2 separate regions of the Homo sapiens genome follow, and region 1 is linked to region 2. Evidence: fine-mapped expression QTL. A gene starts in region 2. The other region holds a variant in brackets. All regions are shown on one strand. Distances are between the middles of the regions.

Evidence for each region. PIP is the estimated chance that this variant, and not a neighbour inherited with it, causes the effect.
Region 1: its variant is fine-mapped to the expression of TMEM44-AS1 in minor salivary gland (GTEx, PIP above 0.99).

Annotation. Positions count from the first base shown.
Region 1 is chr3:194,619,878-194,629,791 of GRCh38, reverse strand. TMEM44 (transmembrane protein 44) reads left to right here. Exons shown (of 10, transcript NM_001011655.3): 2 at 1,283-1,409; 3 at 3,802-3,895; 4 at 6,097-6,263; 5 at 6,482-6,568. Among named protein-coding and RNA genes, the nearest start is that of TMEM44-AS2, 8.1 kb to the left of the region's middle. RefSeq lists an enhancer at 6,600-7,143. The variant C/G (reference allele first, on the strand shown) is at 4,032.
Region 2 is chr3:194,579,754-194,588,969 of GRCh38, reverse strand. It overlaps TMEM44-AS1 (TMEM44 antisense RNA 1), which reads right to left and starts at 4,702. Exons shown (of 3, transcript NR_047575.1): 1 at 4,522-4,702. It overlaps TMEM44 (transmembrane protein 44), which reads left to right. Exons shown (of 10, transcript NM_001011655.3): 10 at 331-1,292. The coding sequence ends at 441. RefSeq lists enhancers at 1-282, 4,686-4,735, 4,771-5,436 and a silencer at 4,926-5,185.

The DNA.
Region 1 (9,914 bases), 40 kb before region 2:
GGTACGACAGCGTATTATTTCAGGGGCCCTATCAGTGACGCCGATGGAAACAGCCAGCCCCTCCGGGAGGCAGGTACGACAGCGTATTATTTCAGGGGCCCTGTCAGTGACGCCGATGGAAACAGCCAGCCCCTTCGGGAGGCAGGTACGACAACGTGTTTCAGAGGCCCTATCAGGGACGCCGATAGAAACAGCCAGCCCCTTCAGGAGGCATGTACGACAATGTATTTCAGAGGCCCTATCAGTGACGCCGATAGATACAGCCAGCCCCTTCGGGAGGCATGTACAACAACGTATTTCAGAGGCCCTATCAGTGACGCTGATAGAAACAGCCAGCCCCTTCCTGCCCTTCCGTGCATCTTCTCCAGTGGATATGGACTGGGGAGGGGCTGTAAGGGGAGAAGTGGCTGTGGGGGCGCTGAGGGAGGGACAGCTCCAAGTGCCAAAAGGGCTCTGTGTTTAAAGAACATGGACACAGGCCAGCAGAAGCCAGGCTGCCCCACTTCACAGATGGTTTAGAAGAATTTCGTTTGAATTTATTTCAGAGAAACAAGTTGTCTTTTTAATTCAGGCAATTAACTGTGCTCTGCAGTTATCTGCAGTGGTTGGGTTGCTTTTTTTTTTTTTTGAGACGGAGTCTCGCTTTGTCACCCAGGCTGGAGTGCAATGGTGTGATCTTGGCTCACTGCAACCTCTGCCTCCTGGGTTCAAGCAATTCTCTTGCCTCAGCCTCCGGAGTAGCTGGGATTACAGGCGCACGCCACCACACCCGGCTAATTTTTGTATTTTTAGTAGGGGCGGGGTTTCACCATGTTGGCCAGGATGGTCTCGAACTCCTGACCTCAGAGGATCCTCCTGCCTCGGCCTCCCAAACTGCTGGGATTACAGGTGTGAGCCACCATACCCAGCCTGAGTTACTTTTATAACCCTCCTGTTTCCTTTTCAAAAAATAAAACCCGATGGCTGCTTTTTCAGTGCTAGGTGGGGGGTCATCAAATGGAGCCGTCCTGATTTGGAGTCGGAAAGTAAAATTCCTCTTCCTCCAAAGAGGCGGTGTCTTCACATCTCACGAGGTCTAGCTCCTGCCATGGGCATCTGGACAGGCGGCTCTGGAGTCTTCTGATTGGTTCCCATCTGTAAACTCAGTTCAAAAACACGTCCTAAATACCTCGGGCAGAAAGAGCTCCCTGACGATGCGGGGTCACAGTTGCCCTTTTTAGATACATGCGTTTGGGTCCAAACTCACAGTTGCTGTGTTCTGTCCACACCCCTGTCACCCCAGGCTTCTCTATCTGAGATGTGCACAGAAACCCAGACAGGACCAGTCGGCACTGTGTGCTGCGTGCTGCCTCCTGACCAGTCTGTGTGACACCGTCGGGGCTCTTCTGGCCAGACAGCTCACAATCCAGGTATGTTGGGCCTCCAGCTGACAGTGGCTTAGGCCAGCACTAAGGGAGGCCTGGCCTTTCTCTCTGCTGCAGCCGTGGTGGCTTTTGTCTTGTTGCTGCAACATGCATAGCACAGTGTCACCTCAGAACCTGTGCCTGGCTGTTCCTTCTGCCCCCCTCAGAGGCTCTTGTTCCCAATATCCACTTGGCTGCCTGCTTAGTCCTTCACGTCTTTGCTCAAAAGTCACTTCTCACGGCCAGGAGCAGTGGCTCACACTGTAATCAACACTTTGGGAGGCCGAGGCAGGCCTCTAAATAGATTAGAATAAGGGAATCCAGAACACTGGTGGAAGAGGTGGGTCACCATTATAAGCAGGGGAGGTCTTATTGAGAAGGTGACTTTTTTTTTTGCTTGTTTGTTTTTTGAGACAGAGTCTTACTCTGTCGCCCAGGCTGGAATGCAATGACTTGGTCTTGGCTCACTGCAGCCTCCGTCTCCTGGGTTCAAGCAATTCTCCTGCCTCAGCCTCCCGAGTAACTGGGATTACAGGCGCACGCCACCACACTGGCTAATTTTTTGTATTTTTAATAGAGATGGGGTTTCACCATGTTGCCCAGGCTGGTCTCGAACTCCTGACCTCAGGACAATCTGCCTGCCTCAGCCTCCCAATGTGCTAGGATTACAGGCCTGAGCCACCACGCCTGACCTGTTTATTACTTCTTGTATGTGAACTCCCATTAGAGTGTCAGCTCTACAAGGGCAAGGATTTGTTCACTGCTGTATCCCCATCACTTAAAACAGCACCTGGCTCCTAGTAGGTGCCCAATACATAGTCATTTAGAGCTTTGACCCAGCCCCAGCTTATGTAGGGTGGCTGAGTCCTTTCCCAGGTAGTGGTGTAGGCTTTGGGGCAAGTGAGAAGTAGTTTCAAGTTTCTCAAAAGCGTAGGCCCTCAAACCTGTGTGGAAGGCTCCTATCCCAAAACACATATCCCCAGGAAAACCTGTTGTGCCCTCCTGCGGAGGCACCTCATGGGACTGGTCTTGGTCTTATGCCCATCCAGGTAGAAATGAAGGAAGGCAGCTCAGTTGGCAGAGCACAGATTTGGAGCATTCTAGACCCTGCTTCAAGCAGTGTTGTCTCAAAAGCAAATCACCTTTCATTTTGGGTGCCCATTCTCATTAGCTAATAGAATACAATAGGGCCAGCTGGGCACAGTGGTTCATGCCTGCAATCCCAGCACTTTGGGAGGCTAAGGCGGGCAGATTGCCTGAGGTCAGGAGATCAAGACCAGCCTGGCCAACATGGAGAAAACTAGCTGGGCGTGGTGGCGCGTGCCTGTAGTCCCAGCTACTCAGCGGGCTGAGGCAGGAGAATCACTTGAACCTGGGAGGCGGAGGTTGCAGTAAGCCGAGATCGTGCCACTGCACTCCAGCCTGGGCAACAGCAAGACTTCGTCTCAAAAAAAAAAAAATACAGTAGGTCCCAGCTCAAGTCCAATAATAATATTTATTAAAAACTACCCTGTCTCTACTAAAAATACAAAAAAAAATTAGCCGGGCGTGGTGGCAGGCGCCTGAAGTCCCAGCTGCTCGGGAGGCTGAGGCAGGAGAATGGCGTGAACCCAGGAGGTGGAGCTTGCAGTGAGCCGAGATCACGCCACTGCACTCCAGCCTGGGTGACAGAGCGAGACTCCGTCTCAAAAAAAAAAAAAAAAAAAACTTAACTACATACTTGGCACTACAGACCGTTTTGTGTTGACTCCTGGAATCCCAGCATCCTATGACATGAGTGTCCTCATTATTCCTGTTCTACAGATGTAGAGACTGAAGCATAGAGAGGTTAAGGGTCACCCATCTAGTAAGTAGCAGTGCCAAGATTCCGCGATTCAAACTCCACAATGCAAGTTCTTCACCGCTAACTCTACTATCAGAGGAGCTGGTGCCTTTAGAGGTAGTTTGCTTTCCCATAGACACTGGTGTAAACACTGCCCATGTACTGTCTCAAGTAACCTTCCTGACAGTCTTTGAGGGAAGCACTGTTAGTTTGCTCGTTTTACAGATGGGGAAACTGAGCGCCAGAGAAGCTCAGTGGGCCAAGGGTACACAGCAGAGACTGCCTCACGCAGTGGGAAGTGTGTGGAATAGAGCTGGAGGGCTGGGCTCTTATCCCAACCCTGCTGGTGGGCATCTGCATACCGTGGGTTCAGTCATGTAAACACCTCATCTCCTCATCAGCCAAGTGGACATGATAATGGACTTTTCCGGGGTTGGCAGGAGGTGTCCCTGGAGGAGTACGTAAGAAAGCACCGCATCAGTGTAACCCATGTGATACAGGGTCCCGGATGACAAACTCTGTAGGGGCTGAGGAAAGATGCTTGAATGCCAAGACTCTCTTCCCGTTTGCTCCCAGGTTTTCACTGGTGCCTACCTAGCAGCTATTGACTTAGTGAACTTTATGTTCATTCTCTTCCCAGTCTGTGGATCCAAATTCAAGTCTAATTCAGGTGAGTGTGTGGCTGTCTTTTCCTGTCTTTATTCACCCATTCATTCATCAGCACGCCGAATGCCTACTCCTTATCACTCCCAGAGCGGGCCCCAGCCAGGCACAAACAAAGGAGAAAGGCTGGGCGCGGTGGCTCA[C/G]GCCTGGAATCCCAGCACTTTGGGAGGCTGAGGTGGGCAGATCATGAGGTCAGGAGATCCAGACCATCCTGGCCAACATGGTGAAACCCCTGTCTCTACTGAAAATACAAAAACTAGCCGGGTGTGGTGGCGTGCGCCTGTAATTCCAGCTACTCGGGAAGCTGAGGCAGGAGAATCGCTTGAACCCAGGAGGCGGAGGTTGCAGTGAGCTGAGATCGCACCACTGCATTCCAGCCTGGCGACAGAGCAAGAGTCCGTCTCAACAAACCTGGTGACAGAGCGAGACTCCGTCTCAAAAAAAACAAAAAACAAAAACAACCCCCCCCCCCCAAAAAAGAAGGAGAGTGTCTCATTAGGGCTGCCAGCTTGGAGGTGTGTGCACACTGTGGGCAGCCAGAGGGAGGGAAGGGCTGCTGGTGTCAAGGAAGCATGGGGCACTAGAGCTGGGGCCACAGGCAGGGCACTCCAGGCACACAGAGCAGCATGGGCAAAGGCTAGGAGGAGGTGTGGAGCAGGGCATGGGCATGAGCAGTGATAGCTTAGTGTGCAAGTTCGGGGTGGTCAAGCGAAGCTTCACAGCTACTGGAAGTGGATGCCAGGAATGGGCACAGGGCACCACCACAGGCACAGCAGGGGTCGGAAATGACTGGGCCAGGATGAGTGGCCCCGAGTGTCTGTGGTTGCGGCTTCTTGAGAAGGGTCAGCCATGTGCTTGGGCCCTTGTTCAAAAAGAGGGGATGAGGGGGCCGGGCATGGTGGCCCACACCTGTAATCCCAGCACTTTGGGAGGCTGAGGCAAGCAGATCATTTTGAGGTCAGGAGTTCGAGACCAGCCTGGCCAACATGGTGAAACCCTGTCTCTACTAAAAAAATACAAAAATTAGCTGGATGTGGTGGCATGCACCTATAATCCCAGCTATTTGGGAGGCTGAAGCAGGAGAATTGCTTAAACCCGGGAACTGGAGGTTGCAGATCGCACAACTGCACTCCAACGTGGGCAACAAGAGCAAAACTCTGTCTCAAAAAAAAAAAGGGGATGAACCAAGTGGTGTGGTGGCTCATGCCTGTAATCCCAGCACTTCGGGAGGCTGAGTTGGGAAGATTGCTTGAGGCCAAAAGTTTGAGGCCAGCCTGGGCAACATAGCAAGACCCTATCTCTACAAACATTTTAAAAAGTAGCTGGGCATGATGGTGCATGCCTGTGGTCCCAGCTGTTTGGGAGACTGAGGTGGGAGGATCACTTGAGCCCAGGAGGTGGAGGCTGCAGTGAGCTGTGATTGTGCCACTGCACTCCAGCCTGGGTGACAGCGAGACCCTGTCTCAAAAATAATAAATGAATCAGAGGGGGTGCTGCAGCAGTGTGTAGTGAAGCATGCCCTCAGCGGCTCAATGCTGCCCAGAAGAGAAATGCTCTTCTTAGAGTTTCTCAGGAGAGAGCTGGGCAGTGGCTTACACCCGGAATCCCAGCCACTCATGAGGCCAAGGTGGGAGATCGCTTGAGCCCAGGAGTTCAAGTCCAGCCTGGGCAACCTAATGAGACCTCATCTCAAAAAGAAAAAATAAACAGAATTGCTCAGAGGAGTGCCTATCTTACAGTTCAGGGACAAAGACACTGCTCATTGCTGTTTGTCCCGCGCACAGTTCCCGCTGGTGCCATCGCTGATTCACGGGTCGATGCTTGTACCACACTTGTACCGGTTCTGCTCTGTGGAGATTGTAGAAACCACCAGAGGATGGTGCCTTATCCTTAGGCGCTCTAGTCCAGAAGAGGCACTGCTGTCTGCACGCAGATGCATAGAGAGAAGATAATGTCATCTCTGCCTGAGGAAGGAGGGCAGCACGTTATGGGGGTGGGGTGTGCAGTCAGTGGTGGAGAGGAAAGACTCCTTGAAGAGGTGGCACAACTACAGGGCCCTGAAGGGTGGGGAGGAGCTGGCCTGCAGAATAATGTGGGAACCCGCTTCAGCATCATGTGGGGAGCTGACACCAGTTCTTCCCACGCAGCTATCTGATCTGACAAGGTCTGGCTTCCAGGAGCCATGTGGGATTTTGGTGTCTGTTGCAGATCGGGAAGCCCGAGAGAGGAAGAGGAGGCGGCAGCTCAGGGCCAGTGTGTTTGCCCTGGCCCTGCCGCTGAGCCTGGGCCCGTGCTGGGCTCTGTGGGTTGCTGTCCCGAAGGCTTCAGCCACCATCCGGGGGCCACAGCGGAGGCTGCTAGCGAGCCTGCTGCAGGTGAGGCTGGGCCACCGTGGGGAGGACTCGGGGTACTGCATGTCCTGCCAAATGCCCAGGGTGGGATGAGGCCGGGGCTAGGGGAGTGGGGTTAAGCCTTCCTTTGTTGGAAGAACCCTCTAAAAGCAGAAAAGGACTCCTGAGCTTTGGCTGTTTCTTGGGGCACATGGGCAGTCTCTGCAGAGTACTGATGGTGGATCACCTGTTCGTTCTTGCAGGAAAATACTGAGATCCTCGGCTACCTGCTGGGTAGCGTTGCTGCCTTTGGCTCCTGGGCTTCTCGGATCCCCCCTCTCTCCAGAATTGTGAGGCCGGGGGTGGGGATGGGACTGTGGGTCACATGACAGTCTCAGGGCATCTGGGAGCATCCTGAGAGGGTCATGGGGCGGAGGTGTGGCGTCACCGTGGGTGCATGGACATGGGCTCAGCTTTTCCTGAAGAGCGTTAGTGTGTATGACAGCAAGGAGGGGGTGTGTGTGGAGAGTGGGCAGCCAACCCAGGGCGTCCTGAGGACGGCGGGAGCCTCTCGGGGAAAGCCCGTGTGTTCTTCCCCATTTCCTATAGCAAATGAAAAGCAGGCTCTGAGGAAGAAGCCCCTGAGGCTGAACCCATAAGAGAAGGAGATTTGACACCGGACAGGCAGCCAGGTGTGAGGTTCTGTGTAGATCAAGAGTGTCTTAGGCCGGGCGCGGGGGCTCACGCCTGGAATCCCAGCACTTTGCGAGGCCGAGGCGGGGCGGGTCGCTTGAGGTCAGGAGTTGGAGACTAGCCTGACCAACACGGTGAAACCCTGTCTCTACTAAAATACAAAAATTAGCCAGGCATGGTGGTGCATGCTTGTAATCCCAGCTACTCTGGAGGCTGAGGTGGAGAATCGCTTGAACCCAGGAGGCAGAGGTTGCAGTGAGCCGAGATTGTGCCACTGCACTCCAGCCTGGGCGACAAGAGGGAAACTCCGTCTAAAAAAAAAAAAAAAAAAAAGAGTGTCTTATGGGCAGGCATTCTCCAGGCATCCACGTTGAGGGAGGCCCTGTGTCGGCCAGTGCTGGGGGGGGTAAGATGTGAGCAGGGGCGAGCGCTTGCCCTCCGGGAGCTCAGTCTCATGGAAGACACGGGAATGTGAAGCAGCATCTCCTCACGCTTCAAGAAAGATAGAAACAAATGTTTGGGGTTTCAGAAGAGAGAGAAGGCTCCTACGCTCTTCAAATGAGCAAGGGTGAAAACTGTTTACACTGCCAGACCGTGGGGTGGTGGGGAGGCGTCACGTTACCTCAGAAGGGAGCGTGAATTTGAGGACACAGGCTAGGGAAAGGCCATCGGCAGAGGAGAGCACACAGGAAAAGCCCCCACGTGCGAAAGCGCCTGAGAAACAGCAAGACACTGTGGACGTGTGACCGCTGCTCTGCCAAGTTTCCTCTGCAGACGACTCTGAGACAACTGTTCCTGTCTCACTGACAGAACAGTGGGCAAACCCAACTCCATGGCAAGTCATAGGCCCATTTAGTCTGAAAAGAATCAGCTGGGTGCGGTGGCTCATGCCTGTAATGCCAGCACTTTGGGAGGCCGAGGCAGGTGGATCACCTGAGGTCAGGAGTTCAAGGCCATCCTGGCCAACATGCTGAAACCCCGTCTCTACTAAAAATACAAAAACTAGCCAGGCGTGGTGGCGGGTGCCTGTAATCCCAGCTACTGTGGAGGCAGGATGGATCACTTGAATCCAGGAGGTGGGGGTTGCAGTGAGCCGAGATCGTGCTGCTGCACTCCATCCTAGGTGACTGAGCACTACTCCATCTAAAAAAAAAAAAAAAAATTACTTGCCCAGGAGCATCTTGGTTGAATAGCAGCTCCAGGGGAACAGGATTCAGGGCTGGAGGGTTGTTCGCGGTTGTTGGTGAAGTCAGTGAAGCTGCATTCTGTGCTGTGACTGCCAGAAGCCTCGCAGGGCCTGGGCCTCATCAGCAGGTGTCCTGTCTTTAGATTAATGGAGGGGAGAGTGGTGAGCACTGGGCTCAGCTCAGCAGCCCACCGGGGTGGCTCTCCAGGGTGGTGTCAGAGCTGGGAGACCACATTGCATGAAGGCCTTTGAAGAAGCTGGCACCGTGCCCTGACCGCCGGTAGTAGCTCCCTAGGGCTGTCGTAACAAAGTGCCACTAACTTTCAACAACAGAAGTTTATTGTCTCGGTGCCAGAGGTCAGAAGTCTGAGAGCAAGGTGCCGGCAGGGCCATGCTCCCTCTGCAGGCGCCAGGGAAGGATCTGTTCCAGGCCTCGCTCCTCTCCCAGGTTCGGGTAGCCCCTTGGCTTGTGGTAACCCTGGGTTTCTCGTGGCCTTCCCTCCGTACCTTTCTGTGTCCGACTTGCTCCTTTTTATAAGGACATTGGAATGGGACTCATCCTAATGACCTCATCTTGACGTGATCATCCACAAAGACCCTATTTCCAAATAAGGCCGCATTCACAGACACTGGGGGTTGGGACTTCAACATCTTTTTTTTTTTTTTTTTTGAGACAGAGTCTCGCTCTGTTGCCCAGACTGGAGTGCATGATGCAATCTCGGCTGACTGCAACCTCTGCCTCCCGGGTTCCAGTGATTCTGTGCCTCAGCCTCCCAAGTAGCTGGGATTACAGGCACACGCCACCACGCCCGGCTAATTTTTGTATTTTTAGTAGAGACGAGAGTGCACCATGTTGGCCAGGCTGGTCTCGAACTACTGACCTCAAGTGATCTGCCCGCCTTGGCCTCCCAGAGTGTTTGGCCTCACAGGTTTGAGCCACCACGCCCGGCCTAGGGACTTCAACATCTTTTGGGGGCACACATTGCAACTCATAACACCACCCCACCTAAAACAGCCCCCAGGCCAGCCCCACCACTGTGTCCCCTCACTCTGCTTTATTTTCTTCAGATCATTTGTAACAACCTGAAATGTGCCCCTTTATTTTCCCGGTTGCTGCCCGGTCCTGAGGTGGAATGTTAACACCTTGTGGGCAGTGGCCTTGTCTGTGTCATTTCCCACTGCATTGCAGGCACCTGGGACCTGATCATGGTAGGAGTCAGCAAACACTTAGAGAGCAATCTAATCTGGCCTGGAAAAAAGGAAGCTGATGAGTGCAGGAATCAGAAGGGCTGTGTGGGGGCAGAAAGAGCAGCCTTGTTCTCTTAAGTCTCAGAGAACAGAACCAAGACAGGGAAGAGGTTGGGGGTGGGCCCTTCCTGGTATTTTTTTTTTTTTTTTTTTTTTTGAGTCGGAGTTTCACTTGTCAGCCAGGCTGGAGTGCAATGGCACGATCTCGGCTCACTGCAAACTCCGCCTCCTGGGTTCAAGCGATTCTTCTGCCTCAGCCTCCCGAGTAGCTGGGACTACAGGCATGCACCACCACGCCCAGCTAATTTTTGTATTTTTAGTAGAGACAGGGTTTCTCCATGTTGGCCAGGCTGGTCTCGAACTCCTGACATTCGGTGATCCACCCGCCTCGGCCTTCCAAAGTGCTGGGATTACAGGTGTGAGCCACTGTGCCCAGCCCCTTCCTGTTGAGTAAAAGGAAGAACTTCAGGGTAAGACACTGTACAGTGCCCAGCATCTGGAGAGCCGCCAGCATTACCCCTGCCTTAGGAGGTAGTCGTCTCCTCATCACTACAAGGTATTGAAGCCTG
Region 2 (9,216 bases):
TTAGGCATGGAGTCAGGATAAGGAGAACATGACTCAGTGTCACTAGATAAGGACTTGGTAGAGGCAGAGAAGAGTGGAGAATGAGGGCGGGAAGGAAAGTGAAGCTGTTATGTTTAGGGTGGTTGTTCATTAGTTGCTTGATGTAAAGTTATGCTTGCCTCCTTAGGTCCCAGAAACACAGGCCTGGGTAACTTGTCCTTACCCTTTTGTCCTTGTCTGTGCCTGGATCATGAGAACCAAGATTGGAGCTTTTGTTTGGGTCAGGGGTTATGACAGATGAGAAGCATCTATCCGTTCCACCCAGCTACCCTTTGCATCTTTTCTCCATAGTGGGACCCTGAAGATGTGAACCTCGAAGGCAGCAAAGAAAATGTGGAGCTACTGGGATCCCAGGTGCACCAGGACTCTGTGAGGACAGCACACCTGAGTGATGATGATTAACACCTTCTGGAGCCAGCTCATCAGCTCAGAGCCCAGGGTCAGGAGTTCGTTCAGTAACGCAGCGGGAATCAATCTGCACTGACACCGCGGCAGGAACTGAAGCTGCCCTGGCAAGTGAGGAACCAGGAGCCGTCACTGAGTGTGGCTGGGCTACATCATAGCTCATCACGGAGCTACGACTTTGGGTACTGCGGACAGACCTGGATAGGCCCAGCATTCGTTCTGAAGATCACAGTTCACAGAAGCTTTTGCTTCGTAAAGATAATCCAAAGGATCTCAGACCCGCTCTTCCTTTTCCCTTCATTCCCTTGAGAGTCAGCCATGAACGGAATACCTGCTAGGTTCCAGGAATGAGCTCACCTAACAGATAGCAAATGTGTCTGGTTAGATCTCAGCAGAGCCCATTCTGCAAGACCTGGCTGAGCCAGATGAGAGGGTGGGCCCTGTGCTGGGGGGCCTTGGGTCACACACAGGAACCGAGACCTGGCTTCCACCCCCCAGTCACCCACTTGGGTTATCTGCTGGAAGTTATCGATAGGACTGTGTGGCCAACCAAGTGCTTGTGAGATCACTGACACTGCAAAAACAAAGCAAACTGCTCCGGGTACCAGGACTTCCTCCAACCTGGCAAGGGTGTGCGCTGAGGCGGGGCTTGCAGGTGAGGGGGCTGTATGCTTCAGGAACTAACTAAATGCATGCAGAAGGTAAGAGGCATGATGGGAGGTGTTCAAGCACAGCAATCCCATTTGGGAGTTATTTTGATACTGCGATGAGTAAGGGTAAGGGCGCATGGAATGGGGCTAAGGTGGGAGTGAACACTGGGGTGAATAAATTTTAAATCAATTCAAGTATCTCACTGTGGAGTGCAATGGCGAGCATGAATCCCTGCACAGTCACAGAATGACGTCGGCCACGAGAGGAAGTGGAGAAATGCCAAGCAACACAGTTTTGCTCCGGGCTGGCCCACAGCCGCCTGCGTGACGCAGCTACAGCAGCCCAGTTTCTCCTGAGGGGTAGGGCAAGTTCCAGCAGCATGAAGGGGGTCCCTTGGGGAAGCAGCGTGGCTCTGCAGGTCTCTGCATAGATCCTAATCCCCTGGGTGACCTCTGAACTACAAGTGATCTTAAAGCCACTTTATTTATCCCCTTTAATCTGAACTGTGTTGGTCCCTGGTTGTCTTGGAAAGTTTGCTGAAGTCAGCTTTGCTTTGTGATGTTAACCACTGAAGCTGTACTTCCAGGGAAGAGGAAGATTTGAATGGAGACCCAGGATGCAGGGAGAAAAGAGTGTTCAAATAGATGAAATAGTACAGAGGACTGGATGCAGGGAAAGGTGGGAGCTAGCAAGGAAGAATCTGAGATGGCCAGAATGGATGATGTAGTATGGGCTGTAGGGGTGGCAAAAAGGCTGAAAAGGAACCAGACTGGAGGCTGGTGAGTCAGTGCTTGGTTCTGTGGCCAGCTGGTAGCCATGGAAGATACCAGAGTAGGAAGGTGACTGACTTGCCTCAGGAAGACCACAACTGATTGGTGAGTTTTTCATTCCTATGGCTACAACTTTCCAGGAAGCAGAAATATAGTCATGGGTACAGAATGAACGTGGGGAACAGGTTTAATCTAGAGTACTGAGTGGTAACAGCAGGGCAGAAGAGCTTCTCTTTAGAAAGGCGGAAGGCATGGGGATAGGATGACCTCTGGAGTTTGCCTTTAGCACATCCTCTGTCTTGAGGGAACTCTGGATCATGCTCCCTAGGGCACCAAAAATTGGTGGGATCCAGGTGAAAGTGGCCATTCACCCAAGAACATCAAATGATCTTGGCCAGGTGCAGTGGCTCACACCTGTAATCCCAGCACTTGTGGTAAGCTGCGGCAGGCAGATCACTTGAGGACAGGACTTCAAGACCAGCCTGGCCAACATGGTGAAACTCCATCTCTACTAAAAGTACAAAAAATTAGCCAAGTGTGGCGGCCCGCACCTGTAGTCCCAGCTACTCAGGAGGCTGAGGCACAAGAATTGCTTGAACCCACGGGGTGGAGGTTGCAGCGAGCTGAGATCGCACTGCTGCACTCCAGGCTGGGCAACATAACAAGACTGTCTCAAAAAACAACAAAAACCTTGCTGACTTTGAGTAACACGAACTACCTAAGGTCCAGATATCATCTATCTCCCTAGATCCTGTTAGCCCAGCCTCCTCCCTTCACAAACTGGTTCCTATCATCACGGTCCCAGCTTGTCTAAGGGTGTCTCCGGCCTCTTCATCCACAGTGAACTACCAAACTGGGAATTTTGGAAGCGAGGTTTGGCTTCATTGTTCAACGAGAATCTTCCTGTATGCAAAGCTCTAGAACACTGGAGCCTTTGTAAGGAGGTGCCAATTAAAATGCCTGTCTCCTAGTAGGAGTGGGCCTCTGTTGCAGCTTTGTTTCTAGCCGTTAGACCAAGAGGGCAGTGGGAGCAACTTGCTCTGATGACCCAGTGAGCAGTGCAGGCACTTTACCTACACTGGGGAGGGGCTGGGGAACAAACTATGTAATCATTGGCTCACTCATCTGGAGACCTGTAGTATCATCTGGTTGTGCCGCCTATCATCTGTGTGGCTTGGAGCATGTCACCTAACCTTTGTGAACTTCTTAGGTAGACTAAGAATAATACCAACCTAGAAAGCCTATGGTGAAGACTAAGTGAACTAACATGTATGAAAATGCAAACATAATACCTATTCAAAGAAGACTTTGGAGAGGGATTAGTTTTCTTTCCCCCCATGCTTCCTGCACACATGTACTGAAAGAGTAACCAAATAATTAGACCTGCAGATGGAAGAGATTTCAGAGGTTTGAATGCCCTTAAACACAACCCCAATTAGTGATTATCCAGTCTCTACTTAAGTTCTCTGAAAAAAAGGATATCAGTTGCCAAGTCTTTATCATTTAGCGAGAGCTCTGCTAAGATGATGATGATGATGATTTTTTTTTTTTTTTTGAGATGGAGTTTCACTCGTTGCCCTGGAGTGCAATGGCACGATCTCACTTCACTGCAACCTCCGCCTCCCAGGTTCAAGCGATTCTCCTGCCTCAGCCTCCCGAGTAGCTGGGATTACAGGCTCCCGCCACCATGCCTGGCTAATTTTTGTATTTTTAGTAGAGACGCTGTTGGCCAGCCTGATCTGGAACTCCTGACCTCAGGTGATCCACCTGCCTCAGCCTCCCAAAGCGCTGGGATTACACGAATGAGCCACCGCACCCAGCTAAAGATTTTCTTGAAAGCCTGTCTAGATCCTGAAGAACTAATCCCCTTATCTCCCTCCCTCAGTATGATGAAGAGATTTATGAGCATCATTTGAAGACACATTCATATTATGTTTCTTTCAAAGGGGTATGAGCTCCTAGAATAAGAAGAGGCACTGGGCCAAGGAGCATGGCTGGGCTCCAGTTCCCAGGTCTGATTCAGTGTGATCTTTGTCATTTCCTTTTCTATGTCACAGTTTCCTCATCTGTAAACTGAAAGTTGGGCCTGATTTTTTTCATTTTTTCTCTTTTATGCATGTGCCAATTTGTTTCCCACAGAATACTGACATCTTTATAAGCTCTCAAGAAAGACATTATAAAAACAAATTTCAGATATACTTTGAACATAGGCTTCATTATACGACATATACCTCTTTCTGTTTGGATTTTACTGTCCACTTAATATAAAAACCTGTATTAATCACTAAGGAAAAGGATAGAGGAGACTTAGAAATATCTCCAGAATAATTTTGCAACAATTCCAAGATTCTCTGCACTTCTTTTTCTGTCCCTTAATTGGCCTCCTCCACATTTTCCAACTATGGAGGTATTGCTCTACTCTCTTCGACTTTACATTGTTTTAGAATGCTTTTGCAAGGAGACTCTGCCTTGAATGAACCCAAGATATGGTGCAATGTTGAGGAAGATCTCCAAGTTTACACATGCCTGTACGATGGCCCAAAGGTCATCATCAGGTGAAAGGGACGACCTTAGAGATGAAAGAAGTTCAAGGAATGGTGCTACATTAAATGACTTAGCATTAGAAAGCATCTACTTTGCTTTTTCTTTCACCAACCCTGAAAGCCAAATAAGGCACTGGGCATTCAGGCCTTCTTTTGAGCAGAACACGTGATTACGCAGTTATTCTTCAAGAGCCTCTGTTAATCTGTCGCTTGGAGAACTCTGCATACTGTCCCAAATCCGTCTGAATTTTCCATCGGCTGCCAGTGTTCGTAGCAGAGGCCTCGGGTCTTCTCGTCCTCTCCTCAGGGTCTGGCAGCTGTCACTACCGTGGACTTCGGTCCAGTCCCCAGAGTCGGGGGCGCTGCCTTTCCCATTTCAGTTGCCAGGGGGTTCATCCACGATCGTGCCAGAGGGGCAGCGCGTGGTCTCCTCGAACTACGGGGGAGAGAGGAACCACTGTTGGCACGGGCCGGACTGAACGCCGGCTCCCACTGCCTACCTCCTCGGAGCTGCATCCGCCGACATCTTGCGCCCTACTCCCAGCACCAGCAGGGCACTTCCGGGAAGAACGGAATTGCGGTTCCGCGCGTGCGCACTCCGCAGCCACCGCCTCCCGCGAGGAGCGAGAGTCCCGCGGCCCCGCCCCGCCGCCGCAGCCGCCGCCGCAGCCGAAGGCCGGCGTTTCTGACCTCAGCCAGCGGCGACGCAGCCGGGAAAGAACTGTCGAGGGCGTCTCCGTAGTTCAGTTTTGGTTTGTTTATTTGAGACGGAGTCTCTGTCGCCCAGGCTGGAATGCAGTGGCGCGGTCTCTGCTGACTGCAGCCTCCGCCTGCCGAATTCAAGCGATTCTTCTGCGACTGAATAGCTGGGACTACAGGGGCGCGCCACGACGCCCGGCTAATTTTTGTATTTTTAGTGGAGACGGAGTTTCACCATGTTGGTCAGGCTGGTCTCGAACTCCTGACCTCGTGATCCGCCCGCCTCGGCCTCCCAAAGTGCTGGGATTACAGGCGTGAGCCACCACGCCTGGCCCACCCCACTCGGTTTTTAAGGAGATAATTACAAGGTTATTTTACGGTTCATAGTGTGTTTCAGACCTCCCAGAAGCCTAACGGTGTATTATAAACCATTCTTTTCTTTGTTTTTAAATGCATTAAAAACCTTTTTTGAGATAAAAATAGTGCAAGTACATGGTTTAAAAAAAGAAAATCAGATTGCACCAAAAGGTTTATGATGAAAAACAATAATGTTCTGTCCCTTTGCCTCCAAGAGACTCCTTTTTAAAATCTTTTGGGCTGGGCGCGGTGGCTCACGCCTGTAATCCCAACACTTTGGGAGGGTGAGGCGGGCGGATCATCTGAGGTCAGGAGTTTGAGATCAGTCTGGCCAACATGGTGAAACCCCGTCCCTACCAAAAATACAAAAAGTAGCCGGGCGTGGTGGTGGGCGCCTGTAGTCTCAGCTACTTGGGAGGCTGAGGCAGGAGAATCGTTTGAACCGGCGAGGCAGAGGCTGCAGTGAGCTGAGACCGCGCCACTGCACTCCAGCCTAGGCAACAGGAGCAAAATTCTGTCTCAAAAAAAAAAAAAACTTTTATACCTTCTAGTAGTTGTCTCCATTAGGTTTGATTTGGAACATGCTTTCCAGCTACAGGGTTCTTAAGATCATACTTGCTTTTCCTGAGCTGCATCATCTTCAGCTTCCATTATACAGGCTGACGAGGCTCAGTAGCACGGCAGGGCCACTGGCGTATTGAGAAATGGATGGTCACCGTCTTCGCATCCGAGGGTTGTGTGGCGTGCCTCGCGCCAGGAACTCCTTGGCCACTCCGCAGTTTCCTAGCTAGAACCCGGCTTCTGAGCCCAGCACGCTCCAACAGCAGCCTGCCGCGGTCCACGCCTCTGCTCCGGACTTGACCTTTCCCTTCCGGCCTTCCTCCTACAGGTGTCTTGGCACCTGGAATCTCCAGAGGAAATCTGAGGGATTCTCTAAACCCACAGCTGGAACAAGGGACGTCATACACGGCGGCCACCACCATCTTTCCCAAGGACAGCATGGCCATGGATGAAAAGGGCCATTTCATGGGCCTTACCTTCTGCTAGCCAGTATAGCCTAAAGCCCTGATACTCAAATGTAGACTCTTAGGCTCCACCCGGAGGATTCCCTAGGTCTGGGCAGGGCTTGGGAAGCTTAGCAGGCTCCTCAGGTGATTCTGCTACAGATGGTCCAGGACCAGTCTCTGAAAAACACTGTCCTCGGGAAATTGCTTTTATGTATTTACTTTTTCCATCTCTTCTTGGTATTTTGTTATCATTTTCAAATACAGAGACGGAGTCTCACTATGATGCCCAGGCTGGTTCCGAACTCCTGGGCTCCAGAGATCCTCCTGCCTTGGTCCCCCAAAGTACTGGGATTACAGGCACAAGCCACCACTCCAGCCGGGAAATTACTTTTAAAACAGATCTATTTGTATGAGATGTTCTCACAAAACTACTTAGAATAGCAAACAAACAAAAAAAAAGTGATAAAGCTCCCAAACCCCACTGTTGTGCAGAATTAAACATACTTTTTTTTTTTTTTTTTTGAGATGGAGTCTGTCTCTGTTGCCCAAGCTGGAATGCAGTGGTGCCATCTCAGCTCATTGCAACCTCTGCCTCCTGGGTTCAGGCGATTCTCCTGCCTCAGCTTCCCGAGTAGCTGGGACTACAGGCGCGTGCCACCATGACTGGCTACATTTTGTATTTTTAGTGGAGACGGGGTTCGCCATGTTGGCCAGGCTGGTCTTGAACTTCTGACCCCAAGTGATCCACCTTCCTCGGCCTCCCAAAGCGCTGGGACTACAGGCATGATCCACCACACCTGGCCCAAACATTATGCTTTAATGAAGAAATGACATTTTGCCATTAAACCTAAAATATCACAGAACCATGGATTGAAGAACAGACATGAATTACCTTGAAATCATCTACTGCAGTGCCTGAGTGGCTTTGCCTGTTCTCACAGCATGAATTCTCAGTTCACACACAGTAAAAAAAAAAAAAAAAAAATTATGAAAGATAATGTCAGCTAATAGGCCGGGTGCAGTGGCTCACCCCTGTAATCCCAGTACTTTGGGAGGCCAAGTGGGGGCAGATTACCTGAGGTCAGGAGTTCAAGACCAGCCTGGCCAACATGGTGAATACCCCGTCTCTACTAAAAATACAAAAATTAGACACACGCCTGTAATCCCAGCTACTCGGGAGGCTAAGGCAGGAGAATTGCTTGAATCCAGAAGGCGGAGGTTGCAGTGATCACTGCACTCCAGCCTGGGCAACAGAGCAAAACTCTGTCTCAAAAAAAAAACAAAACCATAATGTAAACTAGTAAAGGTAGAACACAAGAGAGCTTGAGCCACCATTCACAATTATAAGAAAAATTTTGATAGATCAGAAAAGTCTTAGAAGTCATTAGATTCTGTTGTAAAAAGATTATGTGGATTTTTGTAGTAGATGTTTCTTGACTGTGGAAATACTTAAATACATCTTAAGAGAACTGTTCTAGTTTAAAGGAGTCTGCAGTGGGGATGGGGTGGGAGAGCTATATGGGATTACTGGGACAATTGAGCAAATTTGAATATGTACAGTGTATTAGCTAACTTTATTGTTTCCTTTCTTAATAATATTATGGTTGCACAGGAGAACGCCCCTTTGGATATACATGCTGAACTACTTAGGAGTGAAGCACCGTGATTTGGCAACTGACTTTTATTTTTTATTTTTTATTTTTATTTTTTGAGACAGAGTCTCGCTCTCTCGCCCAGGCTGGAGTGCAGTGGCATGATCTCGGCTTACTGCAAGCTCCGCCTCCCGGGTTCACACCATTCTCCTGCCTCAGCCTCCTGAGTAGCTGGGACTACAGGCGCCTGCCACCATGCCTGGCTAATTTTTTTTTGTATTTTTAGTAGAGACGGGGTTTCACCATGGTCTCGATCTCCTGACCTCGTGATCCTCCCGCCTTGGCCTCCCAAAGTGCTGGGATTACAGGTGTGAGCCACCGCACCTGGCCCCAAGCAACTGACTTTTAAATATTTCAGCAGAAAAAAATTATAAATTTTTCAGGTAGTTGGAGAGAGACAAAGCAAACGGAAAAACGGGAACAATGGATTAATCTAGGCGAATAGCATAAACATGTTCGTTATTCTTTCATCTTTTCTGTAGGTTGGAAGTTTTTCAAAGCCAGCTGGGTGAGAAAGAACAGGAGTAAAGAAAGATTCTCGCCAGGCGTGGCTCACGCCTGTAATCCCAGCACTTTGGGAGGCCGAGGCAGGTGGATCACCTGAGGTCAGGAGTTCGAGACCAGCCTCACCAACATGGAGAAACCCTGTTTCTACTAAAAATACAAAATTAGCCGGGTGTGGTGGCACCTGCCTGTAATCCCAGCTACTCAGGAGGCTGAGGCAGGAGAATTGCTTGGAGCCAGGAGGCGGAGGTTGCGGTGAGCTGAGATGGCGCCATTGCACTCCAGCCTGGGCAACAAGAGCGAAACTCCATCTCAAAAACAAAAAAAGGCCGGGCACAGTGGCTCACGCCTATAATCCCTGCACTTTGGGAGGCTGAGGCGGGTGGATCACCTGAGGTCAGCAGTTCGAGACCAACCTGGCCAACGTGGTGAAACCCTGTCTACTAAAAATACAAAAATTAGCCAGGCGTGGTGGTGGGCACCTGTAATCCCAGCTACTCGGGAGGCTGAGGTAGGAGAATTTCTTGAACCCAGGAGTCAGAAGCTGCAGTGAGCTGAGATTGCACCACTGCACCCCAGCCTGGGCAAC